Linked DNA regions of Homo sapiens. The protein of the gene in region 5 purifies or fractionates together with the protein of the main gene of each other region. This does not show direct contact. Each region holds a gene or a part of one and is shown on either strand. Other genes may lie near its edges. The genes, in order: USP34, MTCL3, TSKS, SMARCAD1, ZNF214 and ANKS3.

Region 1 (5,113 bases), on a different chromosome or scaffold from region 5:
AAACTTACACAGAAAAAACATACACTTGTGTATGATGGAATCTGAAGCCACTGAAAATCCTACTTGAAAAGCCATGTCTAACTCACCTATTGAATTTTTAGTTAACAGCAACTATTTTTCATACAGTAAAATGTTACTAATTTAGATTAAGGGAGTGCTGGGGGAAGACACTGATGCCGAAACTGAACAAATGTTTTAAAAGAAATGCAGGTTTATTATCCAGCACTGAGAGAGTTAACAAGGACTGGAAAAATAAGGCTAACAAAGAATAGGATGTGAATGTTTTCAAGGGCCAAATTAATGTATTTATAGGTAACCAGAGCATATGTTGCAAAAAGACACATTTTAAGAATCAAAATCAATTCTCCAAAATGTTTTAAACTTTACTGTATATTCTCGCTAGCAACAGTAATTCTGTAAATACCTTTTCCCCCCATAAACACTGCAAGGGTAAACAATAAATCTTCTTTCCTAATTATCTCACACAGAATCAGTGGTCTCAATATATGGAAATTTTACTAAAATTTGGTTTTCCTGTTTTCAAATAGTCATGGCTCTTAAACACAAGTAGTATGTCTTTAAGCAGATACACTCCATAGATTTAAATGTGCATTTTAATAATTTATATGGAAAAAAGCAATATATTTTTTAAATAGGACAAAATTTAGATTATATATATATATATATGCATATGTGTATATCTTATTAAAGTATGCAGCTGTCATAAGTAAATTACTCAAGGTCAGTCAAGAAATTAGGATTCAAGTAGGACCAAGACCCAGGTCTTGAGATCCTTAACACTAGGAAAAACCTGCCTTGGTCTACCAGTCACAGCCTGTGCCTCTGCCTCTGTTTCTTGCTCAGGATGGCTGCTTCTATAGCACTGGAAGCTTTGGAGGCCTTATATGGTTAGGCTTTGTTTTAAGGGAAATTTGGGGGCACAGTGAGTTCTGTCTGTGAAAGAAGTCAAGCGAAGGGAGTCCTGCGATGCAGAAGTAGAGAAAGCAATAGGGAGCAATAGGTAGTGGGAGAGTACAGAAACCAAGAAACTACCCAAATCAGGAAGAATGAAAAAGAACAGCAGTAGCAGTGGAGAGGGAAAACGAGATCTCCAATTGACTGAACAGAACACTCAGCTCAAAAATCAACTGATAAAAGTCATTTTCTGAATGCCTACTGTATGCTAAGTCAAGTGAGCTAAGATCAGTGTATACTAGCCTCTGAAAGATTTCTACTGTAGAGAACAACGTGGCATTTCTTCAGGGGATGGAGATGACTCTGATAAGGTCTCTACACTTGAGTTCTGTTTTGGAAAAGTAGAGAAACCACCAGTAGAGTACAGGATGGCAAACATCTAGGAGAATCCAGAGCACACTACAGCCTGGTAGGAGGCTGAACCAGACTCAAAATACTTCAGGAAAGCATGATGTGGGTCAAGGGTTGCACCTAAGGAAGGTGAATAAATTCATCTCTTCCAATGGGGTAGAGCAGATGCAACCAGGCAGTACAATCAACAGTTTTTTCAGGGACTGAAAGGTAGTGGGGATCCTTTATGCCTGATCCAAGGAATGAGCCAAACATTAGTACCTCCTCCTCTTCCCAATTCTGCCTTTGTAACTTAACAAGCATTATTTATGCAGCCACTTAATTTTAAGGAGTTGGCTCTTAGACACTTAAGGTAGGAACAGTAATCTTTCCTGTTTTCAAGGAGATCGCTGTAAGAAAACAAGTGCATCAGACCCCTGAAAAACTACAGATTATGAAAAGCTAAAGGACAGACTGCTGACAGGGTTTCTGCTAGAGGTTTTGGAATGGTGGAAAAGAGGTAGAGACAGGGAGGTGAAGGAGAGGAAGAAGTGGCAAGTGCCTTTTCCCCCACTATCTCCCTGTTTTGGATTTTCCCCACAACTGTTGATATACATCTATAAATGAGAAATTCAATTATAACCAGCTTATTTAAAATATCCTCTATGATAGAAATCTACTTAAGTTAAAAAAATCAAAGGGAAACTAGATGCCTAATATGTAATAGCTAGTATTTTCATTCATTCATATGTTACCTATCAAGATTCTAAAATGTCCCCACTTTTCAGCAAGTCTTCAACCCACTGTTCCTAAAATTATTGACCACTTGGTCAGATAAGATTAAAGACCAATCATCTAAAACTCATTTTCTTTACCTGAGTCTGGCATAGCTCAGTCCAAAGTTTGGGGAACAGTGCAAGATGAAGTGGCAAACCTTCATAGGCAACTAGGACACCTAATATTTGAAAAGAAATCAGAATAGGTTATAATTATAAATTATACTAGTGAGATACTCAACTCTGCAGGTACAATATTACAGCTATTTCTAGTCATAACTGCATATTTTCTATATTTTAAAGTACATAAAGGGGAAAAATTCATTCCAATGTTTAGTGAAATATCTTAGAATGTGGTACTTTGAATTTATTTATATCCTATACCTCATTCCTGAAGGATATGGGACTTAAATCAACTCTTCTTTTTTGAGTATTAGAACTTTATCTGGGAAAAGAAAAAGTTACTGCAAGTGGCTCCAAATCTTTCTTGGATTAAGGTACCACTCTGCCTATTAGATAATTTTCATAGGGTGGCTAGACTGCAGGAGGGAGGAGGGGAAAGGTAAAAAAAAAAAAAAAAAAAAAAAAGTGGAGAATTAAACATATCTTTCCTCTTTTACCTTCTTTCTTCAAAGATAGAATGACCTTTGTGGTACATTTAAGTAAATGCGGCCCTTAACACCAGTTTCTTGGCTTGTTCCCAGGATCTTCTGAGTGGACCGCATCTGGCACTATGTCAGAGAGTGCTATTTGGAACCTCTATGAATTTACTTCTCCACTTCTTGACTATTCCAGATGTAAAATATGTCACTAAGATGTGTGCCCCTATCCTCTGTCATCCTATCTCTGAAAGTACAGAAGCTTCATTACCACAGTCCTAAATGAATTTCCCATCTTCCACATCCCCTAGGGTCCCCAGGGCAAGTATAATCATGGAGAAGAAGAAATATAACACAGACCATCCTCTTCCAGTTAAGAAAAGACTGAGTTAGACAAGGAGTCAGCAAACTTGTTCTGGGAAGGGCCAAATAGTGTTTGAGGCTTTGTGGCCATGCTCTGTTAACACAGCTCAACCCTGCTGAGGCAGTGTGAAGGCAGCCTTAGACAAGAGTAAGGAAATGGGTGTGGCTGTCTTTCAGTAAAACTTTACAAACACTGAAATGGGAATCTCATAATTTTCATGTCAGAAAATATTCTATATTAAAAAAAAATTTAAAAATATGAAAACTATTCTTAGCTAGCAGGTAGCCATGGTTATACAAAAACAGGCAGCATGTGGGTTGTAATTTGCCAAACCGTGGGTTAGACCAAGGACTTGAGAACATCCTACACAGGCAAGTCAGGTCACTCACTCAGAACTTACCAAGGATGCCTAGGATCCCTTCCACAGGTAAGCCAATTTATTTTCCTGTCAAGATGAGTCCCTTTAGACACAAGAGGCAAGGAAATGCTACTTCCCCTTTATCCTAACCTAATCTGGTTGGTGTTTGGCAGCATATACCCACCACGGTATCACCACACACATAGGTAAACAAGGACATGTCATCACATCTGTGGCTATAGGGAAGAGAGTTCCTACGTTCCCATGTTCCTGTATCCTAATTACTCATCAAAGTAGAGGAAGGGTTAGCAAACTATGGCCCTCAGGCCAAATCTGACCCATGGCCTGTTTTTATATGGACTTGTGAGCTAAGAATGGCTTTTTCTTTGAGACAGACAGTGTCTTCACTCTGTTGCCCAGGTTGGAGTGCAGTGGCGTGATCACAGATCAGGGGCAGCCTTGAACCGCTGTGCTCAAGTGATCCTTACACCTTAGCCTCCGTAGTAGCTAAGACTGCAGGCTGGGACAATTTTCTTAAAAAAATATTTTGGGGCCAGGCGCAGTGGCTCATGCCTGTAATCCCAACACTTTGGGAGGCCAAGGTGGGCGGATCACCTGAGGTCAGGAATTCGCAACCAGCCTGACCAACATGGAGAAACCGTCTCTAGTAAAAATACAAAACTAGCAGGGCGTGGTGGCACATCCCTGTAATCCCAGCTACTTGGGAGGCTGACGCAGGAGAATTGCTTGAACGCGGCAGGCGGAGGTTGCGGTGAGCCGAGATCGTGCCATTGCACTCCAGCCTGGACAACAAGAGTGAAACTCTGTCAAAAAAAAAAAAAAAAAAAGTTTTGGGCCAGGTATGGTGACTCACGCTGGTAATCCCGGCACTTTGGGAGGCCGAGGCAGGAGAATAATGAAACCCCGTCTCTACTAAAAATACAAAAATTGGCTGGGTGTGGTGGCACACACCTGTAATCCCAGCTATTCAGGAGGCTGAGGCAGGAGAACTGCTTGAACCCGTAAGGCAGAGGTTGCAGTAAGCCAAGATTATGCAACTGCACTCCAGTCTGGGTGACAGAGCAAACTCTCTCAAAAAGTTTTGTAGAAATGGGGTCTTGCCATGTTGCCCAGGCTGGTCTCAAACTCCTGGCATAATTCATCCTCTTGCATTGGCCTTTGAAAGTGCTGGGAGTACAGGCATGAGCCATCATATCCGGCTGGCTTTTACATTTTTAAAGGTTAAAAAAAAAAAAAAAAAATCAGCCAGGCTGGGCATAGTGGCTCATGCCTGTAACCCCAGCACTTTGGGAGGCCAAGGCAGGCAGATCATGAGGTCAGGAGTTCGAGACCAGCCTGACCAACATGGTGAAACCCCGTTTCTACTAAAAATACAAAAATTAGCCAGGCGTGGTGGCACGCACCTGTAATCCCAGCTACTCAGGAGGCTGAGGCAGGAGAATCACTTGAACCCAGGAGGCAGAAGTTGCAATGAGACGAGATTGTGCCACTGCACTCCAGCCTGGGTGACAGAGCCAGACTCTGTCTCAAACAAAACAAAAAAACCATTAGCCAAACAAAAAACAGTATGTTACAGAGACCTTGTGGCCTGTGGAGTCTAAAATATATAGTGTCCCCTCTTTGCAAAAAGAGTCTGCTAACCCACTAACCTCTGAACTAGAGGCTGCTCTGACATTAACCCTCTTATGGG
Region 2 (5,113 bases), on a different chromosome or scaffold from region 5:
GTATGCCTGTGCTTTATATCAACTCTAGATTACTTATGATACATAATACAATGTAAATGTTATGTGAATAGTGGTTTTTACTGTATCATTTTTAAGTTTGCATTATTTTTTATTGTTGTACTTAAAAAAAATTCAATCTGTGGTTGGTTGAATCCACAGATGTGAAACCTGTAGATACAGAGGGCCAGCTATATGTGATATGTCCTGTTTTAAATACTTTTCAGCTCATACAATTTTGACTCTTTAGTCTTTTTGTTGAAAAGCCTAAGACATTTTTATTTTTCCAGCTTCTTTCCATTTTATATTCCAGCTTTTTAAAGGTCTACTTTTAAAGTAGACCTTTTCAAATGGGCTTTTGTTTACCTGTTATCATTTATTGACTTTTAGTAACGCTTCCAAAACAAATCTAGGTAAGAAATAAAGCTACAGTGGCTGTTTCCTCATTGAACTGACATAGACTAAACAACTACTTTGTGTCAGGTATATTTCTAAGAGCAGGAGCTATAACAGAGACCAATTCTAGGAGCCTGCTCTTGTGGAGCTCACATTGCAGAATGAGAAAACAGACATTGAAACAAACAAATATACAAGTCAGTTGGTGAGATTAGAGGAGCTATGGGGAAAAATTAAAAAGCAGAATTAGGAAGACAAGGAATATGCAAAGGAAGAGAATGGCCGAAGGATTTGCTTTTTGATATGAAATGGCCTGGGAAGGTCTCTCTTATTAGGAACCCTGAAGAGACTATGGAAGTGGGTCATGAGAGTATATGATGGAAGAATGTTGCAGGCAGAGGAAGCCATAATCCAAAGGCCCCAAACAAGGGCATACTTGGTATGTTTGAGGAACTGCAAGGATGCCTGTGACACTAGAGCAAAGAAAGCAGTGAGGAGTGTGGTGGGAGATGAGGTTGAAGGGCTTGTTTGGGATGTGGGATTGGGGGGTGGGGTGACCACATAGAGTGGGCTGGTAGTTGACAGAACCAGCTACACATTCTAGTCACTCTGGGAGCTTTGAAAAAATGTCTGGGCCCAATCCCAAAATCTGTTTTAATTGGTCTGGGTTGAAATCTGGTCAAGTCTTTATAAAACATTACCAGAATAAATCCAGTGTGTAGTCAGGGTCTGGTATACCTTAGTAAAGCATGACTCTAACTCAGTGAGATGGGAAGCCACTGAAAGATTTTGCACAGGATGATACAGCTTGATCACCCTGGCATGTGCCTCTTCTTCACCCACATTCCCCTCTGGACCTTAAGATCATGCCTTAGTATGAAGCTTGGGATCCTGCCTCACCCTTTTAGGGAAGAGAGTGAATGTGGTCCTAAGTAAGCTCTCTGGGCACTTCACCTGTTCTGCCTCTGCCAGTCTGTCTGGGTAAGTGTCAAGGATGTAATAGAAGGAAAAGAGGAAGACTTCTAGGAACAAGAGCCCATTCTGTCCCCTTCCAAGACAAGTTGGAGACAGAGCTTCTACCTTTTTCAGTTTCCTTCCAGCAGGCAATCCCTGGGCCTCCCTCCCAGTGTTACCCTATAGTCACAGTATTTACAGATTGATTTAAGAACCAGTAAGTGGTGTATGTCACTTCTGCTGATCCCTGTGTTGAAAATATTAAAACTTCTGCACATGTGTCATATATGTAACCTAGTACCCCAAACCTTGCTGTCACGCTCTGTTACCATAAAGGATATGCTCAGAAATAATATAAGCCTGCTATCTAAATTGCACCTTTTTCTGTCGAAGTAACAGTATAATGTAGTTGTTCAGAGTGGGAACTCTGAAACTGGCTAATTTGCATCCTGGTTCTAACACTAGCTAGCTGAGCGATAAATCCATTGTGTGCTTCAGACAATGGTGTCAATAAGTCTGTTGTCAGTCTGAATGAGTAGATACATATAAAGTGCTTAGAAAAGTGCATGACACATATTTAGGGCTCAAAAGATCTAAATATTAATGTCTCTATAGTTTCCTTCTTGATTTAATTACCACACAAATGAATCTCTCTTTAATTTTATCAACAGCATAGGAGACTTCTATATGCATAATATGTCTTTTGGTAGCATGTTAGGCACATTCTTCTCTGTGGTTTAATTGCTGAAAACATAAAGATGCTACATACTAAGTGGAGTAAATTTTAATTGAGAAAAGGAAGATAATCTCAAAACATTTTTAGAAAACAAACAACCCATTTTATATCATTGCTGTGAAAAAATAATTACTGGCAAAACTCTCTAATTCCTGGCCTTCTCATGATCAAAAAAAACAGCAGCCTCTTTTGGACAAGCTGAGGCTGGGAATGTAAAGAATTAAGAAGTGGACAATAAATGTTTTCAACGTATTTATCTAGAGAACCATCTAGAGAAGTGCCTGCTTTGCCAGCAAATATGAAAATCTGAGATTTCATTGTGGCCTCCCCAACTGCTCCCCTAGCAGAGGTTACAAGATTTAGTGGATGATGGTGGGGGAGGATGACAAGGGGGGAGGTTACACAGTTTCATCCTCACAGGAAAGGGACTACTTGGACTCACATTATTTCTCTAACTTTCTGTATCCATAGAAATGTCTCATCTTTGTTTCATAGGATTCAGAAAGTTAACATAAACTTACTGGAATATGAAAATATGAAATATTTATTGAAAATGCAAATGTGATACTTACACATAGTAGCAGCCCTAAAGGCACCTGAAAGCTAATGTATCTTTATTCAAGGGGAAGGCTTTACTTCAGAGCTTTATTTGAGCTTAACACTCCACCTGAGTGATATTTAAATAAAAGCAAAATAGAAAATGCCTCTTAGGAAAGAATGCCCTAATTTCAGCATTGCTCTTATATTAATTTAGAGGTCTCATTTTAACATTGCCCACAGGATAAAGTCTAAATTTCTCAGCTGCACAAGCTGACCTCAATCTTTTCTGCATCTTCTTTTACCCCATCTCTACAGTGGCCCTACCTCCATCACTTCTTTTCAGGAGTTAGTGCATCTGAAAGGCAAACTCATTCCTCTATATCTTTACTCCTACAACAGTTTGTTCAGTTTTATTTCTGTTGAAATTTTGCATATCCTTCAAAAGTCAGTTCTCTTGAATGATTTTCTCTGATTCCCCAGATCTGGAATTAGAGCTTCTTCCTTTGCCCTCTCAGTCCCTTTTTGTTCATTTATTGCCCTGAGTTAGTTCTGCCCACTGTTTTTGCTAATTGCATCCTTTTTATCATTATAAACAGTTAGCTCTTTGGGGAAAGAGTACAATATTTCTTAGTCACATGTGTTTGGCATATATACAGTACCACATATAGACCAGAAACTAAATACCTATGAAATGAATGAAACACAAAGACCAAAAAACATTTCCAGAACTAGAACATACTTTCCCTTGAAACCCCTGCATGTAACATCTTTATCTCACAGCGATTTGTACTGCCACCCTTGTGTCTTTGTATATCTCTATGACAGTCTAATTATGACATTTCTTGCTCAATAGGAGCATTTAGTGCTCCAAGTTGACCCTAGGACAATAATTTGACCTGAATAAGATAAAATTCAATCTTTATTCAATGTCCTTCAAGATCTGACTTATGCCACCAGCAAATCTCATGTCACTCCTCTCCTCTCACTCTGTAACACCCATATGGAATTTCTGTCCCAGAAATGGTTTTTCTATGTGGAATGCCTTTTTTTTTCCCTTTTCCTCCTCTTCATCTTCCATTGGCTAACTACTCATGCACCAGATTCTAGATAAGATGCTACTCATTTTGGAAATTATCCCTAGCTCCCCACACCATCTCTAGCCCTAGATTAGATAAAGTCTTTCTCCTTAGTGATCTAATAGCTAACAGTTAGATATGAGAAAGACTTGGGTCAAGGTCTGAAGTTATTGTTACCAACTAGTAACTTTAGACATTTGCAAACTTTAGCTTATTAAATCATAGATCACTGGGCCTCATCCTCAGAGTTTCTGAATCAGTGGTTCTGGGATGAATCTCAAGAATTTGCTTTTCCAACAGCTTTCTGGGTGACACTGATGATGCTGTTCTGAGGAGCACAGAGATAACTGATGCTTTTGATAATTTATTCATCTACTTCTGTTACCCCTGTAAACTTTAGTTTCAGCACCTGCAAAGTGAGGCTAAAAGGAGTGTTTAAAAATTAGCTGAGATAATGTATGTGAAGGGGTTGACATGAATTAGGGCTCAATGACAGTTAATATTGTTCTTGTATTATCATTGCTTTCATAACACTGTGTTGAATTCCAGACTGAACAGATCATGCCAAGTAAGCTGAGAACCCCCAAAAGAGCAAAGATCACATTGGTTTCATTATTATTGTGTCACAGGTATGTTATGAAGTGCATTGGTAGTCACTAAATAAACACATAATTGAGTGAATTCAAATACAAGCATTCAATAAGTATTTAGTGAAACAAATTCAACGCTTCTTGTAGGCAGCCCCTACCTAGAATGTTCCAGGTTTCTTAGTTTAGCTCACTTTATTCTTGGTATTCTTGGGACTGTTTTGTTGATTACTTCCTAAATTACTTTTTGGTTATGGTGAGTCAGTCCCCAAGCTTTCCTTTCTAAGAAGATTATACAAGCAACAGAAAGAACTTCTTCCTGTAAAGAACTAGAAATGAATAACCACGTGGGCTATTCATTTGTCTGTGTAGTTTCAGTTTCATACTGAATGAAAGCAGTTGCACCAAAGTATTCCCCTGCCTTCTGTGCTTGAACGTATGCCTTTACTTAACAGTGGATATGGGTTAGAAATTAACATGTGAAGAATTTAATTTTCATTTCTTTGCGAATTTATGAAGACTCCTGTTTGGAAAAGGCTTCCCTATTTTTACTGTCAGTCTATACCCCTGTCCTTCTCTTTGACCTCAGAACCTCGATTTGGTATTCATATATCATTAGTTCAGCAAGTATTTTTTTCACCACCTGCCATGTGGCAAGCACTATTTTTATGGTGGTGATGCCACACTAAATCAAAACCCCTGCTTCACAGAACCTAAAGCATAGCATTTATCAATTTGCACTGTAATTGTTTGCTTCTCTGTCTCCTCCCCTGCTAAGTTTCAGCTTCCTGATGGTAGATGCAGTATCTAATCAAACTTTGAGTCTC
Region 3 (5,113 bases), on a different chromosome or scaffold from region 5:
TTTACGCTTGTTTTAATGTTGCTACTGCCGAAGGCAATGGATAACAGTTGGGGTAAACAATAAAAAGCAAAAAATCTTAAAAGGAAAATCTGATGGACATATCTGTAGAAGCCTTGAAATGTTCCAACAAATTCCTGGGAATGTAGAAAGCCATTGGCCTGTGTAGGGTTGTGTACATGCTTGGGAAAGTTCTGAGAAGGCCCCAAGCTTTTCACCTCTGGCTGACCTTGAAACCTTGAAACGCTGCACAAGCAGGAAGGGAAGGCTAAGGTAGAGTTGTAAATTGTCTGAGTGTTAAAGGTGTGCCTCATCAGGCACACAGAGTGCCATTTGGCAAAGACTAGAAGATTTTGTTGTTGTTCCAGTTTAAGGAAATGTCTCTCCAATCATTAGCTAACCACTAAAATTAGAGAACAGAGACTTCAGTGGCCAAACATGACAAAGAACACAGATATTACAGAAATAGTTCAGAAAAGTCTGTTTTTTAAAAAGCAACTACAGGCCAGGTGCAGTAGCTCACACCTGTAATTCCAACAATTTGGGAGGATGAGGTGGGAGGACTGCTTGAGCCCAGAAGTTCAAGACCAGCCTGAGCAACATAGTAAAACCTAATCCCTTAAAAAATAGTAATAAAATAGGCCGGGCGTGTTGGCTCATGCCTGTAATCCCAGCACTTTGGGAGGCCGAGGCGGGTGGATCACGAGGTCAGGAGATCGAGACCATCCTGGCTAACATGGTGAACCCCGTCTCTACTAAAAAATACAAAAAATTAGCTGGACGTGGTGGCGGGCGCCTGTAGTCCCAGCTACTCGGGAAGCTGAGGCAGGAGAATGGTGTGAACCCGGGAGGCGGAGCTTGCAGTGAGCCGAGATCGCGCCATTGCACTCCAGCCTGGGCAACAAAGCAAGACTCCATCTCAATAATAATAATAATAATAATAATAATAATAATAAAATAAAATTAGCTGAGCTTGGTAGTGCACACCTGTAGTCCCAGCTACTCAGAAGGCTGAGGCAGGAGGATCCCTTAAGCCTGGGAGTTAGAGGCTGCAGTGGGCCACAATCATGCCACTGTACAGTGGCCTGGGCAACAGAGCAAGATCATGTCTCAAATAATAATAAAAATAAATAAATAAAAATAATAAAATAAAAAGCAACTATAACAAGCAATAATAACAACAAATCCTTATGAGTGGGGAGAATCTGTTTCTAGGGTTGCTACATTATGATACTTTATTTTTTATTGTATTTTTTTTTTTTGAGACAGAGTCTCCCTCTGTCCCCCAGGCTGGAGTGCAGTGGCATGATCTCGGCTCACTGCAACCTCTGCCTCCTGGGTTCAAGCGATTCCCCTGCCTCAGCCTCCCCAGTAGCTGGGACTACAGGCACCCGCCACCACGCCTGGCTAATTTTTGTATTTTTAGTAGAGATGGGGGTTTCACCATATTGGTCAGGCTGGTCTCGAACTCCTGACCTCAGGTGATCTGCCTGACTTGGCCTCCCAAAGTGCTGAGATTACAGGCGTGAGCCACCGTTCCCTGCTACATTATGATACTTTAAATGGCCAGTTTTCAGGCCAGGCACGGTGGCTCACACCTGTAATCTCAGCACTTTGGGAGGCCAAGGCAGGTGGATCACCTGAGGTCAGGAGTTTGAGACCAGCCCAGCCAACATGGTTAAACCCCGTCTCTGCTAAAAATCCAAAAATTAGACAGGCATGGTGGTGCACACCTGTAATCCCAGCTACTGGGGAGGCTGAGTCAGGAAAATCGCTTGAACCTGGGAGTCAGAGGTTGCAGTGAGCCAAGATCATGCCGCTGCACTCAAGCCCGGGTGATAGAGTGAGACTCCATCTCAAAAAAAATAAAAAATAAAAAATGGCCAGTTTTCAACAAAAAAGTTATAAGGCATGCAAAGAAAAAAAACTATGGCCTATACAATGGAGGACAAACAAGCAGTCAAGAGAAACTGTTCAGGGGTAGGATGGCGGGGGCAGATTTGGACTTACTAGGCAAACACTTTAAATCAGCTACTTTAAATATGTTCGAAGTGCTAAAGGAAACCATTCCTAAATAACTAAAGGAAATTGAGAGAATAATGTCTCACCAAATAGGGCATATCACTAAAGAGACAAACATTATTAAAAGAAACCAAATAGAAATTATAGGGTTGAAGGGCCAGGCGCAATGGCTCACACCTGTAATCCCAGCACTTTGGGAGGCCAAGGCAGGCGGATCACGAGGTCAAGAGATCAAGAACATCCTGGCCAACAAGGTGAAACCCCGTCTCTACTAAAAATACAAAAATTAGCCGGGGATGGGGTGTGCACCTGTAGAGCCAGCTACTCGGGAGGCTGAGGCAGCAGAATCGCTTGAACCCAGGAGGCAGAGGTTGCAATGAGCTGAGATCACACTACTGCACTCCAGCCTGGCAACAGAGAGAGACTCCGTCTCAAAAAAGAAATTCTAGGGTTGAAAAGTACAATAACCAAAGTGAAAAATGTACTAGAGGGGGCTCTGTAGCAGAATAATGATTCAGTGAACTTGAACATAGCTCAACTTTGATTATCCAGCCTGAGAAACATGAAAACAAAAAGAATGAAGAAGAATGAATACAGCCTCAGAGACCTATGGATCTGGGAGTCCCAGAAGGAAAGAAAGGGGCAGAAAGAATATTTGAAGAAATAATGGTTGAAAACTTCCAAAACTTGATGATTTGAACATAAATCCACACATCCAAGAAGCCAAATGAACTCCAAATAGGCTCCAGGGGCCGGGCCAAGTGACTCACTGCTGTCATCCCAGGACTTTGGGAGGCTGAGGAGGGTGTATTACTTGAGACCAAGAGCTCAAGACCAGCCTGGCCAACATAGCAAAACCCTGTCTCATAAAAAACAACAATAAGAAGGCTGGACATGGTGGCTCACACCTGTATTTCCAGCACTTTGGGAGGCCAAGATGGGAGGATCGCTTGAGCCCAGGAGTTTGAGACCAGCCTGGGCAACAAAGTAACACCTGCGTCTCTAAAAATAAAAATGAAAATAAAAACACTTTTAAAATAGGATAAAATGGGCCAGGTGGCTGGGCTTGGTGGCTGATGCCTGTAATCCCAGCACTTTGGGAGGCCAAAGTGGGTGGATTATGAGGTTAGGAGTTTGAAACCAGCCTGGCCAAGATGGTGAAACCCTGTCTCTACTAAAAATGCAAAAATTAGCCTGGCGCGGTGGTAGGCACCTGTAGTCCCAGCTACTTGGGAGGCTGAGGCAGGAGAATCGCTTGAACCTGGGAGGCGGAGGTTGCAGTGAGCCGAGATCGTGCCATTGCATTCTAGTGTGGGCGACAGAGCGAGACTCCATCTCAAAAAAAAAGAAAAGAAAGAAAGAAAACCACAGACCAATATCCTTTATGAATATGGTCACAAAAATCATCAACGAAATACTAGCAAACCAAATCCAACAGCATGTAAAAAGGATTATACATGGTGACCAACTGGGAATTATCCCAGGAATGCAAGGTTGGTTCAACATACTAAAATCAACCAATGACTGGGCATGGTGGCTCATCCCAGCAATTTGAGAAGCTGAGACAGGAGGATCACCTGAGGCCAGAAATTCTAGACCAGCCAGGTCAACATAGTGAGACTCCATCTCTACCAAAAAATTTAAAAATTATCTGGGTACAGTGGCATGTGCTTGTGGTCTCAGCTCCTTGGGATGCTGAGGTGGGAGGACTGTTTGAGCCCAGGAGGTTGAGGCTGCAGTGAGCTATGATGGCACCATTGCACTCCAACCTGGGCAATGGAGCAAGACTCTGTCTCTAAAAACAAATAAATGTTACATACCATATTAATAGAATAAAAGGGAAAAAAAACACATGATCATGTCAGTTGAGAAAAAGCTTTTGACAAAATACCACTCATGATTAAAAAAAAAAAAACACTCCACAAACTAGAAATAGAAAGGAAGAAAGGAACTTCCTCATCCCAATAAAGGGCAGCTACAAAAATCCCACAAAATGTGATAGTTTAAAATATGTCCATAAATTCTTTCACATTCCTTTAAAACGTGGAGCCTTATTTGCCTCACTTGAGTATGAGCTGGACTTGGTGACTCACACCCAGGAAATAGAATAAGGCAGGCTAGTTGTGGTGGCTCATGCTTGTAATCCCAGCACTTTGGGAGGCCGAGGCAGGTGGATCACCTGAGGTCAGGAGTTCAGGACCAGCCTGGCCAACATGGTGAAACCCTGTTTCTACAAAAAATACAAAAATTAGCTGGGCATGGTGGTGCACACCTGTAATGCCAGCTACTCAGGAGGCTAAGGCAAGACAATTGCTTGAACCTGAGAGGCACAGGCTGCAGTAAGCCGAGATTGCGCCACTGCACTCCAGCCTAGGTGACAGAGACTCTGTCTCAAAAAATAAAAAAATAGAATAAAGTAGAATTGATGATATGTGAGGTAAGAGACTACTTCATAAGAGGAACTGTTTCTTATTTGCTCTCTCTTCATCTAGGGAACGATAGCCTCAATGTCATAAGCAGCCACCTATGAAGAGGCCCATGTAGCAAGGAATTGAGGCCTCCAGCCAAGGGCAGGTGAGTGCCCCATTTTGGTAGCACAACCTCTGGCCCCAGTCCAACCTTCAGGTGACTGCAGCCCCAGCCAAAATCTTGTTTGCAACCTCGTGAGACGCCCTGAGCCAGGCCCACCCAGCTGAGCCCCTCCAAGTTTGTTGTTTGAAGTTTTGGTGTAATTGGTTTCACAGCAATAGAAAGCATTACACAAAGTGTCTTTCTAACCTGAAGACTCAGAAGGTCTTGGGTTTCCTGTGGGTAATTGTTCTGGAAACCAAGGCAACAGGACCTAGGGCCAACTAATTTCTCCCAGTTACTAGCCGTATGACCTCATGGAGAGGACTTCACCTCTCTGTGCCTCTGCTTCCCTACCTGTGAAATGGAGATATAACTAACAACTACCTTCACAGGGTTCCCATTGTCCTTCCTCCTACCTGGAAACTGACACTCTCTCAACCAGGGTCTCCATCACCGCCTGGTTCTCTGTCCCCCTCTTTCCAGTTCTCTGTCCCCACCCAGCCCCTGTGTCTGTTCCTTCTCT
Region 4 (5,113 bases), on a different chromosome or scaffold from region 5:
TGAACATTCTTACCCAAGTCCTTTTGCCAACATAAGCGCTCATATCTCATGATTATATTCTTAAGGGTAGAATTGCTGGGATAGATTAGGCATATGTTTCCTCCATTTAGTCATGGGACATTGCCCTTAAACCATTCAGTGGATATTAAACATTCACTGTGTCTAAGCAATAACCAAAATTATATCCTTTCCATGCAATGCAAAAAGTCTTCCATATTAATGTGTATTGTATATGAACTAGCAATGAAGATCTATCCACTGCTCAGTAAAGTAAGTTATAGCATCATTTGGAGATTATAATCAATTCTGTCATTTGAGAACTAAGAACATAGTAGAAATTCCTTTAGAGTTGCATTCTGGGAAATCAAAAGTGAATACAGCACAGAATTACTGCTTTTTCTTCTGTATTTTTATGTATTTATTTTTTGTTTGTTTTAAAATGTTATATATTGTCTTTTAAACTTTTTAGGGCCTAGGAAAAACTATTCAAGCCATTGCATTTCTGGCATACCTCTATCAGGAGGGTAATAATGGTCCTCATTTGATCGTTGTTCCAGCTTCAACTATAGGTTTGTAATACTGGAGACAACTGTATTTAACTTTATCATGTTTTATATAGGTAGAAGAGAGTGTGTGTAAGGGTGTGTGTCGGAGGGGTGTTGTGGTTTCTTAGTTTGTAGAGATGAATATTAATTTTATGGTCTCTTTATACTTTTCTCCTTTGTTTATATATGTGTGTTTGATTATATTGGCAGTCTTTTAAAAAGAACTCAAATGTAAGTCAGTTTTAAAATTTTAGACCAAGGACGATTTATGTTGGTTTCATAATACTTTTAGTTACTTTTAAAAGTGACTAAGAGAAAATGAGTACTTTTAAATGTAGAATTAAACAGATACGTAATTAATTCCTACACACATAACTGTTCCATTCTTTCTCAATTCGTTGGATGTAGAAGTTAGAATAAGAGAATATTTGTACATGTGAATGTAACAAAGAAAACCCCCTTCTCTTTAAATTGGAGGTTAATAATCAACTGTAAATATAATATTTGGTCATCTGCCCTTCATTTTGATGCCTCACAAAACCTCAAGATCATTTTACATAGGTTTCATAAGGAGTAATATTGTAAAGGGTCTGTGATAAAAACAATCGCCATGGTATTTATATTTTAATTTTTAATTTTTATTTATTTTTTTTAAGACAGTCTCGCTGTGTCACCCAGGCTGGAGTGTGGTGGCTCAATCTTGGCTCACCGCAACCTCCGCCTCCCAGGTTCTCGTGCCTCAGCCTCCCGAGTAGCTGGGACTACAGGCGCCCGCCACCATGCCTGGCTAATTTTTGTATTTTTAGTGGAGATGGGGTTTCACCATGTTGGCCAGGCTGGTATCAAACTCCTGACCTCAGGTGATCCACCCGCCTCAGCTTCCCAAAGTGTTGGGATTACAGGCATGAGCCACCTTGCTGGGCCAGTATTTACTTTTTATAAAAGACTGATTTCTGAGTAGCACTTGTCAAAGTTTAGTGTTAATTTAACCATGTGAACATACCCTATTGTAGCAGATGCAAATAATGTCTCTTCTGTTCCATAGATAACTGGTTAAGGGAAGTTAATTTATGGTGCCCTACTTTGAAGGTCCTCTGTTACTATGGTAAGAATATGTCATTCTGCTTTTAACTTTGGAAATTAAAAATAAAGTACAGCACAATAAATAGTCATGTGTTTATTGTTTTTAAATTCTAGGTTCTCAAGAAGAACGTAAACAAATTAGATTTAACATTCATAGTAGATATGAAGATTACAATGTAATTGTGACCACGTAAGTATTGAGAAATTTGGGGAGGATGGATATTTATGCAGCCCCCAAATTTAAAAAAGAAATTGTAGTAGTACTATGTAGGAAAGTTTATGCTGTTAACTGTGATACGAAAGTAATAGAATGACTAATGTTGAGGATTCAGGCATTTTTTAGTTTGGTGTGTAATACCCATATAGGAGGTTTTTGTTAGTGAATCACCTCATTAATGGTGACTATAAAAAGGTTTTGCCTAGTTATTGAAAAAAGTCGTCTTGTAATAGTAATTTCTCAGTTAAGCTTAAAGTAAAATTTGAGATATCCCACCAAAATTATTTATATTTTTAACTTACAAATAAGTATCTGTAATAAATACAATGAAATTTCATTTTCTCAATGAAAAATTTGAGTTAGGGCAGAAATAAAAATGAAAAATAATACTAATAATACTACTTGGTAATAATTGATGTAAATATCTTGCACAGAACTTAATGCTCTTGTGTTACATTAGTTGATTTATTTAAAGTTCTATTTTAACTGTAGTTATTATTTCTCTCTACTGGCTTCTTGTGTAGGAGTCTGTCCTTTAAAAATTCATGCGGAATTTTATTTTTTCTTAATAAAACAGGCTCCATATGCAGTCTCAAGCTGCTAGCTATTAACTATTATTTCTTGGATCTAATCTGCTAGTTTAATAAAATATTAAGTTTTAAAGAGAAACATGTTTTAGCTTCACGTTCTTTTTTGTGCTTATTAAAATATAACACTTCATGGAGCAGATTACTTACAAGTTATACCCAAATTGACCTCCTCCTGGGTATGTAGAAGTTGTCCGATTGTAACATTAACATTTTCTTTTTTTTTTTTTTTTTTGAGACGGAGTCTCACTCTGTCCCCCAGGCTAGAGTGCAGTGGCGCGATCTCAGCTTACTGCAACCTCTTGCCTCCCGGGTTCACGCCATTCTCCTGCCTCAGCCTCCTGAATAGCTGGGACTACAGGCGCCCACCACCACACCCGGCTAATTTTTTATATTTTTAGTAGAGACAGGGTTTCACCGTGTTAGCCAGGATGGTCTCGATCTTCTGACCTCGTGATCCGCCCGCCTCGGCCTCCAAAAGTGCTGGGATTACAGGTGTGAGCCACCGCTCCCAGCCTTTTAACATTTTCTTTCAATTATGTATTGCAGCTTTCATAGCTTGGTTACAGTGTACATCAATAATTATTAAATACAAGTACGTCAGTATTTATTTGAGTATCACCCGTGTCTAGTGCTGTGCTTTAAGTACTGGCTGTTAGAAATGTGTAAATAAAAAATGATTTTATAAGACATTAAATTTCACTAGACTCCAAGCTCTTAAAGGTATAACCTTAGAGATGTTTTTTCTTTTGGTGACAGATATAACTGTGCGATCAGCAGTTCTGATGACCGTAGTCTGTTTCGACGGCTGAAACTTAATTACGCAATTTTTGATGAGGGCCATATGCTGAAGAATATGGGCTCCATTCGCTACCAGCACCTTATGACAATTAATGTAAGAGAATGTTTGTAAAGTTTTCCAAATTACTGTAAAATTTAGATTACGTAATTTAATATATGTAGTATTTATTAGCAGAATCTGTATTATGTAGTTTAATATATGTAGTATTCTGTGTTAGCAAGTTTTTTCTGTAAAAGGGAAGATAGTAAATATTTCACACTTTATGGACTAGATGGCCTCTGTCACGTATTCTTTGATTTTGTTTTTTAACAACCCTTTAAAAAATTATTAGGTCATAAGCCATAATTTACCTGTTCTATATGTTAAACTATTTATAAATAATCTTTCATCATCTCATAAAGGTGATACGAGGACACAAGTTACCTACTTATAAAAGAAGACCAATGGTTTTCGTATTCATTGCTGTTGATAATAGCGGACGTCAATTATTTAAATTACTATATCATTTATCACAGAATGTTAAATTATTAATAATGGTTTTAATTTATCTCTCCTCCCTTCACCTTTCACTGGGGAGGATAGACATGAAAGGAGTGGCTCTTTAAGAAAAAGCTAATATAAATTTTACCTTCATTCACAGGCAAATAACCGTTTGCTGCTCACAGGCACACCTGTACAGAACAATCTGTTAGAACTCATGTCGCTGTTGAATTTTGTTATGCCACACATGTTTAGTAGTAGCACCAGTGAAATACGAAGAATGTTTTCCTCTAAGACAGTAAGCATAAATGCATATTTTCTCCCAAATATGTTATTTGTGTTTTATCTGGGCCATTCTTCTGTTAGGTCTCTTTTGTTGTTTTCATAGTGCATATGCTCTATGAAGTAACTTTAAGTAGGTGATAACTCTATATTTGGATTGGTTTGGAAACCAGCCAAAATATAATGGGAAAGAAAATAGCAATTTCCCTAATCAATGGCCAGAAGTCTTGGTTAATATCCTAATTTTCTGAAGGATGACGATTTTAAATTGATGAAGAGCTCAGATATATAGTATGTGCGGAAAGTTTGATCATTACATCATCTGTATCAAAATTGGCTACGTAAATTAGTAACATTTCTTTATGGGTAAACTATAAAACTAGACAAAGCTAGAATATCCAGAAAATGCCTATGCTGAGAAATATATTCTGAAATAAAAGTTCATAAAACCAAAGTCACAACTAAAAGCGACAGTAAAGAAATCCTCTTCACAAGAAAAGTTTTGTTACTTCTTTATTGTTTAGGAAAAGTATAGTCTTCAAGAACTCCCAGTTTTTTCAATACCGCAGTGTTTACACTGATTCTTGGCTCTCTTCCACATCACTAATCTTTTGCAAGAATTTTCTGTGATACTCGTCCACTGCAAATTAACTGCCTTTTAAACATTTACTAATTTGAATTCCCTCCCACTTAATGTACAGTGTTTTAAATGGCCTAGCAGATTTTATGAACCATTTTCTATCTTCAGTTCATAATATATGGAGGACTCCTTCACATCCTAGAATAAAATTCTACTTCTTAATTCTCCAGAGTCACCAGTTCTGACTAAGCACTATTCCCCATTTTTAGACCAAGTGATTTGCATCAGTCTGCACTAGCTTCCTTTTGGGGCCATTTTCCACAAAGAAATAAAGGATTTTCTACCCCCCACGCTCCTCCTTACCCACACTTAGACACATTTTTCAATGAGAGTTATCTAGGTAATCGATACATGACTCATCAGTTGATGACTTCTGAACACCCATCTGGTACAGTTCAAATTGATTACTTCAGTAGAGAACATGATTACGTATCATAAAACTTCAAAATACATATGGAGCTTCAAGAAGTACATGGC
Region 5 (5,794 bases):
TCTCTTCCCATGCAAGGCAGTTTCTTCACTCCTACCCTGGGTACATCTCTAGGCATCTGGTGACTGCTCCCAGGACCCCCATCAAAGCTGGTGCTTTGGGTCTCTGCACATTCAAGCCAGGGAGGGTCCATGACCAATAATTTTCAAAATGTAGCTTCCAGAGTCATAAAAAATGCAGATGCTCACTGTGTGGTGGACGGAGGCAGATAGGCTCTAGGCCGGGCACCCCTGCTAAACCCCAAACTGTAACTGGGTAGAATTCATTCCTAAAAGTCTTGCGTATGCTATACTTGGTGCTCTTTGTTATTCATATTGGCCTCTGCCCTTTAGCAGGTATATTCCTTCAGATACACATTTTGTTTCTCTGAAAACTGGATCCTCTTAGCTTTTTTTTTTTCTTTTAATTTTGGTTAGTTCAATGAGGTTCAGGTAATATTCTCAGGTTGGAAGCAGTGTGGCAGAACAGCCCACTTCCAGTGTTCGTTCTTACCGGTCAATGTCTCTGCATTCAGTAATTCAACTATCAATTGCGGCTATTTAAATACATTGCTTTTTAATGTATTTAAATAGCCGCAATTGATAGTTGAATTACTGAATGCAGAGACAGATTTAATGGGTGCAGCACACCAACATGGCACATGTATACATAGGTAACAAACCTGACCTGGACGTTGTGCACATGTACCCTAAAACTTACAGTATAATAAAAAATAAATAAATAAATACATTGCAATTTACAGGTGAAAATACTTAAGGGTGAGCGGTTAAACAACTTGCTTACCACCACCTAGTGGATAACAATGATTGACAGCTCTTAATGTCAGTTCCGTCAGACAACAAAGCCCACATTTTTAAAATGCTATGCTATGCTCTCTGAATGTTCAAACCAGGGAAGGCCCACGCCCAGTAATTTTCAAAATGTGGTCTCCAGAGTCATAAAAAATGCAAGAGCTTATTGTGTGGTGAACTCAAGCAGATAGGCGCTGGGCCACCCACCCCTGCTAAACACCAAACTGTAAATATATAGTTCACAAGACTACTTCCTATGTGCAAGGGGCTGGTTTAAGCATTTTAACTACACTAACTCATTTCAATCTAACAAGTCTGTTACATAGTTACTATTATTATTGGCTATCAATATTACGCCTATTAAGCTGATGCTTAAAGGTTAGGTAATCCAGCCAAGATCTCGTAAGTGGTGTTGTCAGATTTGAATCCAAGGAGTCCCTTGCTTGTAATGACTATCCTACCAAAAGTTCCTTGCCTAATAAAATGTTTGAATATTACTGATCCAGCCCAAGTTTGAAGGACAGGGCCCAAAGATGCGAAAGTATTTTCCTAATATAACACACTCAGCTAAATAATAGAACAGGCTCTTGCAACTCTCTGTGGTCCCAGGACACTGAGGAGGGGCTCCTTCTCATGGCTTCATTTCAGCTCCACTGTGCGTTTCCCTTCTCTGCCTGGAGTCTCCAGAGGAGCCTGGGATTTGGCAAGAAGGCGGGAGGGAGGAAAGCCTCACTGGACCAGGAACGAAGAGGGTGTCTGGCAACAATAGGACGGAATTTGAAAACCTCTAACCTTGAGTTTAGAGCGATGCTAGCTAGTGCCAGGGCTAGTGAGGTGCCCATTCCGCCAAGGCGCGGGACAGCGAGGACAACCACGCCTTGCCAACCAAAGGCGACCTGACAGCGTTTCCTCGGGGTCGTCGCGGTGGTGAGGGTCACAGAATTCTCCGAAGCCAGTAGCTCCGTTTCCAGCCACGCCCCCTTTCCCAGGGCCCTAAAAGCTTCGGGAGTTCTCCTATTCCATTAATGCTGGTGCGTCCTCGCCTTATCCCCCGAGCGCCCGCAGCTCCCGCCCGCGCAGGAATGCCAGCGGCCAAAGGTCGGGAGGCGCGGGATACTTCTGGCCAATCAGGAGTCACGTTTTCCCGCGCTCTCTCTTCCCGCCCCGCCCCTCCCGTATCCATGGAAACACTGCGAGTGTCTACTCCAAGACCTGGGACTTCCGTTTCGGTCCAGCCGGGCTGCGGCCATTGTTTGTGTGGACTGAGTGTTTTGGCCATCCCGGTCCACTCTCACAGGCTCCGTTAAGTGACATGAACTCTCAGGAGGACTGAGCCAGAAGCGGACAGGGCAAGACGAGCTGTGCTTGAAGGAAGAGGGGCAGAAAATCGAGGGTCAGGGACTGAGAAGCTACTCCGGTTTAGAAACCCCAGAGACACCCGTGTAGATGGGTACATCACGGCTTCTCTCCCACGTTAAGACTTAATAAAGGCAAGTAGAGGAGGGCAGAAGCAGCTTGGGCCCCGGGGTATGGGTGCCCGGTGTTCGGTGCCGGGGCAGAGTTCTGGCCGGGGATCTGGATAAGCAACGGAGGCCGCGCGCGTCTTCAGTGCAGGAGCAGGGGACCCCCGGGTCTGTGGCGGAGACCGGGAGATCCCGCTCCTAGAGAACCGTTCGTGTGTCTGGTTCTCTGGTGCTTACACTTGGGCAGCCCGTGACGCGTTGGGGGAGCCCAAACCTGTCCTGCTCTTGGGGCACGCATGAAACGTTTTTTCCCTAGAGAAAGAGGGTTAACTAATTGCTTATTACTTTGCCCAGGAACCTACCTTTGATCAGCAAGGAAGGACTGGGGTGGCAAAGGCTCATGCCCCCATTTTACAGGTAAGGAAACTGAGATCTTGGAGATCTATAAGTTTGGTCCTCTTTAAAGTTCTACAAGTGCTTGATGGCACAGTTGAGACTTTGATCAGGACCTGGGAGCTCCAGTTCTGGGATACTTCTCTAAGACTCCAGGTACTTTTCTGATAGTAAATCCAGTATTCCTGTTTAGCAAGTAGGGGAGGACAATGGAATGATTTTCTACTTAAACTGAACAAAATAAGAAAAATACCTTGAGAATAGATACTATTTAAGTGTGCTGGTGCTTTCCTATTATTGTTAGTAGTAATAATAATCTCAATAAATAAGTGAGTTGTATCTTTTGAAGTTTCTAGAGGGTTGGAAATAAATTTCAAGGTGCCAGTGTTCATAGCTCTCCTTTCTGGTCGTTGAAAGGAAACAAGAGCATTCATAGGCTTCTTTTGGACCTCTTGCTAGGAGATGTGTGCGTCATACCCAGTTAGTATATGGGAAATTTAATGAATTTGGGAATTTAAAGCCATACCCAGGTTTTCAGTCTGCCTTCCTCCTCAGCTCAGCCGTCTCAGCACTCTACCCTTCCCCAGAAGAGGAACACAAAGGAGGAAGGAATGTACACTGTTTCCCTCATAGTCTGATCCCAAGTGAGGATGATTGTCTTTTCTCATTTACAAAATGTCCCTGCATTCTCCATGGGTGGTGGAGGTGGCAATGAGGATGGATGGATGACTGGACAGAAAACGTTCCTCGCTTGCCTGTGAAATTTTCGAGCGTGCAGACTTGACCCTGCCCCAACCCAGTGTCTTTTCCCAACATTTACTCATTCATTCATTCAGTCACTCAAGTCTAGTGTATAATTCATGCTGTTCTTGGTGTTCTGAGATAAAGAATTATAAGAATGTCATCGCCAGGCGCGGTGGCTCACGCCTGTAATCCCAGCACTTTGAGAGGCCAAGGTGGGCGGATCACTTGAGGTCAGGAGTTTGAGACCAGCCTGGCCCACATGGTGAAACCTCGTCTTTACTATAAATACAAAAATTAGCCAGGCATTGTGGCAGGCACCTGTAATCCCAGCTACTCAGGAGGCTGAAGCAGGAGAATTGCTTGAACCCGGGAGGCTGAAGTTGCAGTGAGCCAGGATGGCACCACTGCACTCCAACCTGGGCAACAGAGGAAGACTCCCTCTCAAAAAAAAAAAAAAAAAAAAAAAAGTCTTAACATTGGGGGTAATAAACTATATGAGATTAATAATAATTTCTGAAGTTATCGACATTAAACAGTGCCAGAATGAGTGGCACTTAAAACACAGCAACAGAAACTCAGATTTGAACAATTATGAGTAGGAAGATATTCTAAATAGGAAAGCCATCATTTACTCTCAGGTACAATTTGAGGGAACAAATAAGGAAACCAGGCTAGTGACAGGGAAGTGAAACATGAATGTATAAAGCCACATTGTGGAAGGCAATTAATGTTTAAATTTGTTATTTATTCTTGTGCATCTCTTCACATGAACCATATTGACAGCCATTGTTGACCTTTGGGTGTATTTACTTGTAGTCTTTTATTTAATACTTATTGTATATATGTACTCACTAGTCTGTACAAATACTGATATGTATGTATACATGTTCATACACATGTACAAATATAAACTTAGGTATATGCACACACGTATATAAAAAGATTAGTATATATAAAACATTAAATTAAAAAATTTGACTCATGACAAATAGTCTCCATGAGGGAAGGAAATGTTCCCAGTATATAGAAGTGTACTGTGCGTATACTAAGCACTCAGTAAATATTTATTCAATGTATGAATAGCTGTTATTTGTATACGTTTTTCACTTAACATATAATGAGCATTTTTCCAAGCATGTTTTGGTAGCATGAGTTTTAATGACTGTATAGTGTTCCATTCTAGGTATATAGTATGCTTTATTTAAGTTTGCTTTTTTTTTTTTTGAGACGGAGTCTCGCTCTGTCGCCCAGACTGGAGTGCAGTGGCATAATCTCGGCTCACTGCAACCTCAGCCTCCCTGGTTCAAGCAATTCTCGTGCCTCAGCCTCCCGAATAGCTGGGACTACAGGTGCACGCCACCATGCCCAGCTAATTTTTTTGTATTTTTAGTAGAGATGGGGTTTCACCGTGTTGCCCAGGCTGGTCTTGAACTCCTGAGCTCAGGCAATCTGCCCACCTTGGACTCCCATTAAGTTTGCTTTTTACTGGGGAAAATTTAAGTATTTCCCAATATGTTGTTGTTATAAATATCTTATAATAAATATTCTTATACATAATTTGTTAAGTATATGTCTTTTTATTTTCTCAAGATATACTCTGAGAAATAGGAAAACAGAATCAAAGGATATAAGCATGTTTTAGGCTTTTGAAAAACTGAAGTTCTCTTTTAGAAATGTTATGTGAACTTGAACTCCTACAACCATTTGATGAATGATTCTATCTTACTGAGCCTTTGCCAGCACTGAGTATTAAGTTTTAAATTTTGCCTTGATTTGCATCCTTTTTAATCCTTAGTAGGGTTGACTTTTTCACATATATTCGTTGACTCTTTATATTCCTTCTTTGATGAATTGCCTTTTGATATACATCACTGTTTTCCTACTGAATTTTTTGTTTCCACTTGATATTAGATATTCTTGTGTGGAAAACATATAAATCATTTGTCATATGCTGTAAATATTTCTCCTAGTTTATCATTTGCCTTTTACTTTAAGGACTTGTTTATATAAGTTTTAAATTTGCATAAAATGAAATCTCATTTCTTTTACTTATATAGTTCTGTGCTTTGAAATCTCTTCTTCACTTCCAAATTTAATATGTAATTGCTTTCATTTTCCTGTTTCTTAATTGTGTTATTTTAAACATTTAATTTTTAAATCTATCAAGAATTTATTTTGATGTGAGAAATGACAGAATTTAAACATTCTTTTTACTTCCTACTTAGGTTATTTAATTTTTCTACTAACATTTATCTTCTCTACTGACTGTGGTGCTACCTTTTCATATACAAATTACACATACACATATGTATACAAAGATTACTTTTGAGGCTGTCTTGTTTTGTGGAGCCTCTTCTCAATTCTTACACTGGTATCAGAATGTTTTTATTGTTGTCCCTTTATAT
Region 6 (5,113 bases), on a different chromosome or scaffold from region 5:
TTTTCCTTTTCTTTTTCTTTTTGAGGCAGGATCCACTCTGTGACCCAGAATGGAGTGTGGCGGCGCAATCATAGCTCACTGCAACCTCCAACTCCAGGGCTGAAGCGACCCTCTGGCCTCAGCCTCCCAAAGTGTTGGGATTACCGGCGTGCGCCACCGCACCCAGCCCAGCCTAACGCATCAGGGTTCACCCCTGCCGCAGCATGCAGCAGTACTGCATTACTTTGTAGGGCCGAATAATATCCTGCTATACAGATATATATTTTGTTTATCAATTCCTCAGTAGATGGACTTGTGGGTTTTTCTACTTTTTGGCAATTATGAATAATACTGCTATGAATATTTATGTACAAGGTTCTGTGTGGACAGGCTTGCACCTGTGATCCCAGCACTTTGGGAGGCTGAGGTGATCGCTTGAGCTCAGGAATTCAAGACTAGCCTGCACAACATACTGAGACCCCCAACTCTACCAAAAAAAAAAAATTAAATAATTAGCCGGGGCATGGTAGCATGCACCTGTAGTCCCAGCTACTTGGGGGCTGAGGCAGGAGGATCGCTTGAGCCCAGGAGGCTGAAGCTGCAGTGAGCCACGATCTCGCCACTGAACTCCAGCCTGGGATACAGGGCAACACCATGTCTCAAAAAAATAAATTAATAAAATAAAACAGAAATACAACATACAGAAATAACTGCAAATGTATTAAAGCTATGTGTAAAAGGATATTCCCGGAACACTGTTTATAATTGCAAAATGTTAAAAACTAAGTTTCTACTAATAAGAAACTCATTAAATTAACTGAGGCAGATTGTACACGGAATACTGTACAAAGATAAGATGTCTATAAGATGTCTCTAAGTTACAGACTATACGTAGAATCCCACTTTGTTCAAAACACAAAGCAATGTGCACACACTTGCCTACAGACACATCTTTCCACAGCAGAGGAAAAGTCCTAGGGCAGCTCTTTCTCAAACCAAGTGGGCATCAGGGAGGTTGAAAAAGAGAGGAGGATCTCTGCCTTCTTATTCTATATAATTTTTCTAAGTGACAGGATTATGAGTGCTATTTACTTTTAAAATATTTTTCCATAATTTTCAGATAGTATTTTCAAAATTATTACAGGAATAGGTGTCTATTTCTACTCACCACTGTATCCTTAATGCCTAAGCACCACTCAACACCGGGCGTCAATAGATAATGAAAATGTGTTGAATAAATGAATGAAAGTTATTTCTGTGCAAAGGAAAATTCTGTAATAGCTTATACTTCAGTAATATGATTCCTCATTTGCCGTGACTACATTACATGCTAATAATCAGGGTCACTTACGTGATTCAGAAAATACTGCACGATTATCTCATGGCCAGCAGCAGCTGCTTCCATCAAGGGAGTAAATCCACATATCGGCTCCCTGCAAGATGTGGGCCACAGTCAGATGATTGGAAGAGACAAGTTCCGCCAGGCAAAAACTCCCTGCTGAAGATAAACCCTGAGCAGTGCACGAGTCACCGATCCCTAAGCGTAGAACACTGTCCCTTTCCAGAATTAACAGGTGACATGAGAACAGTGAATATAACACATCAGCTCCATTTACTCTTCTGGTGTCTGTCCCCAGGGCTGGTCTTTGTCCTAAAGACAGATGTCTGCCTGTCGTCCCACCTGTTGGCTATTCCCACTGGCTACCTCTGAAATCTCCACCTCAATCATATTCAAAAAGCTGTTCTAATTCCTCACAGAAAGCCAGCATCTCCCATCCATTCATCCAAATCCTGGCTTCAAGTTCAACGTCCTCCATGAACCCACTCTGAAAAGTTCAAGTACTAATGATCTAAGCTATCTTTGCCACGCTTAGCTCCTGAAGCTTGCTTTTCATGCTTGGTTATGCTAACTCGGCACTGTCTTCAGAGGGCTTCCAAATCCCTCCTTGTCTCATGCTGGTTTGGAAGTCAGGAACCATGCATGGGAAATGCTGGTTTTCATCCATCTTAAGACACACAGTGTTCATATTTTAACATCTCTCAAGTCAGAAAACATCTTTAAATCAACAGGCGAGTTGAATGTTAATTAGTAGCATATTTTTTCTTTCTTAGTGGCATACAAAATTATCAGGTGTCTTAGAATGAATGACAGCCAGGGTGGGTGCTGCATTGGTACCCGCTGCGTTTGTTCAAAGGTGATTATTATCATGACAAGCTTTAGACAACAATCCCACTTCCAACTTATAAAACTCATGACTGGTTTTTTGTTTGTTTTTGAGACAGAGTTTTGCTCTTGTTGCTCAGGCTGGAGTGCAGTGGCACGATCTCTCAGTTCACTGCAACCTCTGCCTTCTGGTTTCAAGTGATTCTCCCGCCTCAGACTCCCGAGTAGCTGGGATTACAGGCACCTGCCACCACGCCCAGCTAATTTTTGTATTTTTAGTAGAGACGGGGTTTCACCATGTTGGCCAGACTGGTCTCGAACTCCTGACCTCATGATCTGCCCGCCTTGGCCTCCCAGAGTGCTAGGATTACAGGTGTGAGCCACTGAGCCCGGCCAAAACTCATGACTGTTGTTTTTGTTTTTTTTTTTTTGAGATGGAGTCTTGCTCTGTCACCCAGGCTGGAGTGCAGTGGTGCAATCTCGGCTCACTGCAAGCTCCACCTCCCGGGTTCACACCATTCTCTTGCCTCAGCCTCCCGAGTAGCTGGGACTACAGGCGCCCGTCACCATGCCCAGCTAATTTTTTCGTATTTTTAGTAGAGATGGGGTTTCACCATGTTAGCCAGGATGGTCTCGATCTCCTGACCTCGTGATCTGCCTACCTCGGCCTCCCAAAGAGCTGGGATCACAGGCGTGAGCCACCACGCCCGGCCTCATGACTGTTTCAAAGCATCACCTCACCTCATCCATACAAAAAGCAAGAAAATGGAAGGAATTTGCATGTAATGTATGACATTTAAATGCCATTCAGTATGTTAGGCCCCTGGCATACAATAAAACATGTAATTCTTACAACTGTATGACCCAGGTGGGTTTCAGATAAAGAAAAGGAAGCTGAGAGGGCTTGAAGAGATGCATCTCACAGATGTACGAAAAGGCCTGTGCCTGGAAGGACTCTGGTCCTACCCCTCATCTTGAGCCTCTCGTGCCGAAGCAGGGTGGCCCTAAACTCTGGTTAGCTGCCTCCAGAGCCACCCTCCTTAGAGTCAGATGACACCTAGGCCACTCCTGTGGCCACTAAAGATGTGGCAATCACCTCACGTTGGCATTGGCTCCACTGTCCAAGAGGAACCTGACCATGTGCTGGTGCCCGGCGCTGGTACAGTGGAAGAGGGCTGTCCAGCCCTGGATGTCTTTCATTTCTAGCTCTGCACCTTGCTTCAAGAGAACACAGAACGTGCGTTACGGCCTCATCTCCTCTGCGTGGGGCGGGCGCCCTCCAGGCGGCCATGCTGCAAGAATCAGAAGTGATTACACGAGCACACACGAACACCGTGGCCTGCAGTGGTTCGCATCTCTGTCAGGGTGGCCACGGAGCCCCTCAGGTTTCTGGGCCTGAGTTCCCTCGTAGCTCACCTGGAGAAGAAAGTAGGCGATGCTCTCGTTGCCACAGCTGGAGGCCAGCATCAGTGGAGTCTGCCCTTCTGGGGTCGGCACATTCACACTCACCCCCGCCTCAAGCAGCAGGTGCACGATTGTGTCGTGGCCAATGTAGGAGGCATACATCAGCGGGGTCCAGCCACCACCATTCTTCTTATTCAAATCTAACTCTCTCCTAAACAAACGCAAGATATGCTAGACATGGCCAGCCGCCTCGCATGTGGGGTTCACCAAAGCTGGTGGCGAGGCTAGGCCAGGCGGGATGAGTTGACAGGAAGCAGAAGTTATCTGCCACCCTGGACGTTGTGGGGATTGGAGGCAGGCAGGCAGAAAAATGCTGACAGTTGCTCGTACACTGCCTTGTGAGGCCCTGAGCCTTCGTCTCCTTGCTCTGATTTCGCATCCTCCTAGCCCAAGGCCAGCTATGCTCTTTCACACCACCAGATAGGCAGATGGCACTCAACCAGGGAATATGTGGCAATGTGTGAAGGCATTTTTGGTTCTCACAACTGGGCAGGGAAGGGCTGCTGGAGGCCAAGGCTGCCGCTAAACATCCCACAGTGTCCAGGACAGCCCCCACAGCAAAGAATGATCCAGCCTGGATTGTCAACACAGCCACAGTTGAAAAACCCTGACCACCACAGGCCTGGCATCTACTAGCCCACTGCTGGGTGGAGAGGAGCAGTGAGGAAAGAAGGGACTCCACCGTGGACAAGTCCCACCGCCACTGATTCATCCTTTGTCACCTCACCTTAAAGAAACATTCTTGAAAAATCTGTGACCAAAGAATCCCATCTTTCTCACTGATTGCTGTTAAAATTCTGGCAATGCATTTTCCCATGGGAAAAAACTGTGGGCTTCCTAGCTGCGACTCTGGGGTTGGGACAAGGGAGTCACATTTAAAATAATACCCACTTGCATGGTTACCTGGGATCCTACATGGTTAACGCCCACAGGCCTTCTTTCCCTTCCCCAGTTCTTGCCTGCAGAGGGGATAACAACTGGTGACTGAACCCCAGGATCTGTCCCTTTTACGGGATTCACTTTTTTGTTGTTTTTTTGAGACAGAGTCTCGCTCTGTCGCCCAGGCTGGAGTGCAGTGGCGCGATCTCGGCTCACTGCAAGCTCCGCCTCCCAAGTTCACGCCATTCTCCTGCCTCAGCCTCCCAAGTAGCTGGGACTACAGGCGCCCGCCACTACGCCCAGCTAGTTTTTTGTATTTTTAGTAGAGATGGGGTTTCACCGTGTTAGCCAGGATGGTCTCGATCTCCTGACCTCGTGATCCACCCGCCTTAGCCTCCCAAAGTGCTGGATTACAGGCGTGAGCCACCGCGCCCAGCCGGGATTCACATATTAGACCACAGCAGGCAACTACCTTCCATTGCCTGGCAGCCCTCAGTGACTCTGGGATGCACACCTGGGCAGCCATTCCAGAAGGTCCTGATACCAGGGTTCAGTGGCAGCCCCTGGCCAGGGGGGCTGCATGGAGATGCCTCTGCAGCAGGGCTCGAATGCACCCAGCTCGTCCTA

The links.
Region 1: the proteins of ZNF214 (region 5) and USP34 purify together in Homo sapiens (affinity purification with mass spectrometry; 2 studies listed by BioGRID and IntAct, with this or other methods). This does not show direct contact.
Region 2: the proteins of ZNF214 (region 5) and MTCL3 purify together in Homo sapiens (affinity purification with mass spectrometry; one large-scale study listed by BioGRID and IntAct). This does not show direct contact.
Region 3: the proteins of ZNF214 (region 5) and TSKS purify together in Homo sapiens (affinity purification with mass spectrometry; one large-scale study listed by BioGRID and IntAct). This does not show direct contact.
Region 4: the proteins of ZNF214 (region 5) and SMARCAD1 purify together in Homo sapiens (affinity purification with mass spectrometry; 2 studies listed by BioGRID and IntAct, with this or other methods). This does not show direct contact.
Region 6: the proteins of ZNF214 (region 5) and ANKS3 purify together in Homo sapiens (affinity purification with mass spectrometry; 2 studies listed by BioGRID and IntAct, with this or other methods). This does not show direct contact.

The regions. Positions count from the first base shown.
Region 1 is NC_000002.12:61,190,721-61,195,833, forward strand, and holds part of USP34 (ubiquitin carboxyl-terminal hydrolase 34), read right to left. Parts: intron 2,261-5,113; coding exon 2,181-2,260; intron 1-2,180. UniProt on the Homo sapiens protein: Ubiquitin hydrolase that can remove conjugated ubiquitin from AXIN1 and AXIN2, thereby acting as a regulator of Wnt signaling pathway.
Region 2 is NC_000006.12:127,483,852-127,488,964, reverse strand, and holds part of MTCL3 (microtubule cross-linking factor 3 precursor), read left to right. Parts: intron 1-5,113.
Region 3 is NC_000019.10:49,752,644-49,757,756, forward strand, and holds part of TSKS (testis-specific serine kinase substrate), read right to left. Parts: exon of another isoform or gene 4,512-5,113; intron 1-4,511. UniProt on the Homo sapiens protein: May play a role in testicular physiology, most probably in the process of spermatogenesis or spermatid development.
Region 4 is NC_000004.12:94,273,148-94,278,260, forward strand, and holds part of SMARCAD1 (SWI/SNF-related matrix-associated actin-dependent regulator of chromatin subfamily A containing DEAD/H box 1), read left to right. Parts: intron 1-469; coding exon 470-569; intron 570-1,590; coding exon 1,591-1,650; intron 1,651-1,742; coding exon 1,743-1,818; intron 1,819-3,191; coding exon 3,192-3,327; intron 3,328-3,874; coding exon 3,875-4,012; intron 4,013-5,113. UniProt on the Homo sapiens protein: DNA helicase that possesses intrinsic ATP-dependent nucleosome-remodeling activity and is both required for DNA repair and heterochromatin organization.
Region 5 is NC_000011.10:7,016,558-7,022,351, reverse strand, and holds the start of ZNF214 (zinc finger protein 214), read left to right. Parts: upstream 1-2,005; 5' UTR 2,006-2,279; intron 2,280-2,601; exon of another isoform or gene 2,602-2,652; coding exon of another isoform or gene 2,653-2,669; intron 2,670-5,794. UniProt on the Homo sapiens protein: May be involved in transcriptional regulation.
Region 6 is NC_000016.10:4,723,420-4,728,532, forward strand, and holds part of ANKS3 (ankyrin repeat and SAM domain-containing protein 3), read right to left. Parts: intron 3,759-5,113; coding exon 3,560-3,758; intron 3,436-3,559; exon of another isoform or gene 3,362-3,435; coding exon 3,240-3,361; intron 1,413-3,239; coding exon 1,331-1,412; intron 1-1,330. UniProt on the Homo sapiens protein: May be involved in vasopressin signaling in the kidney.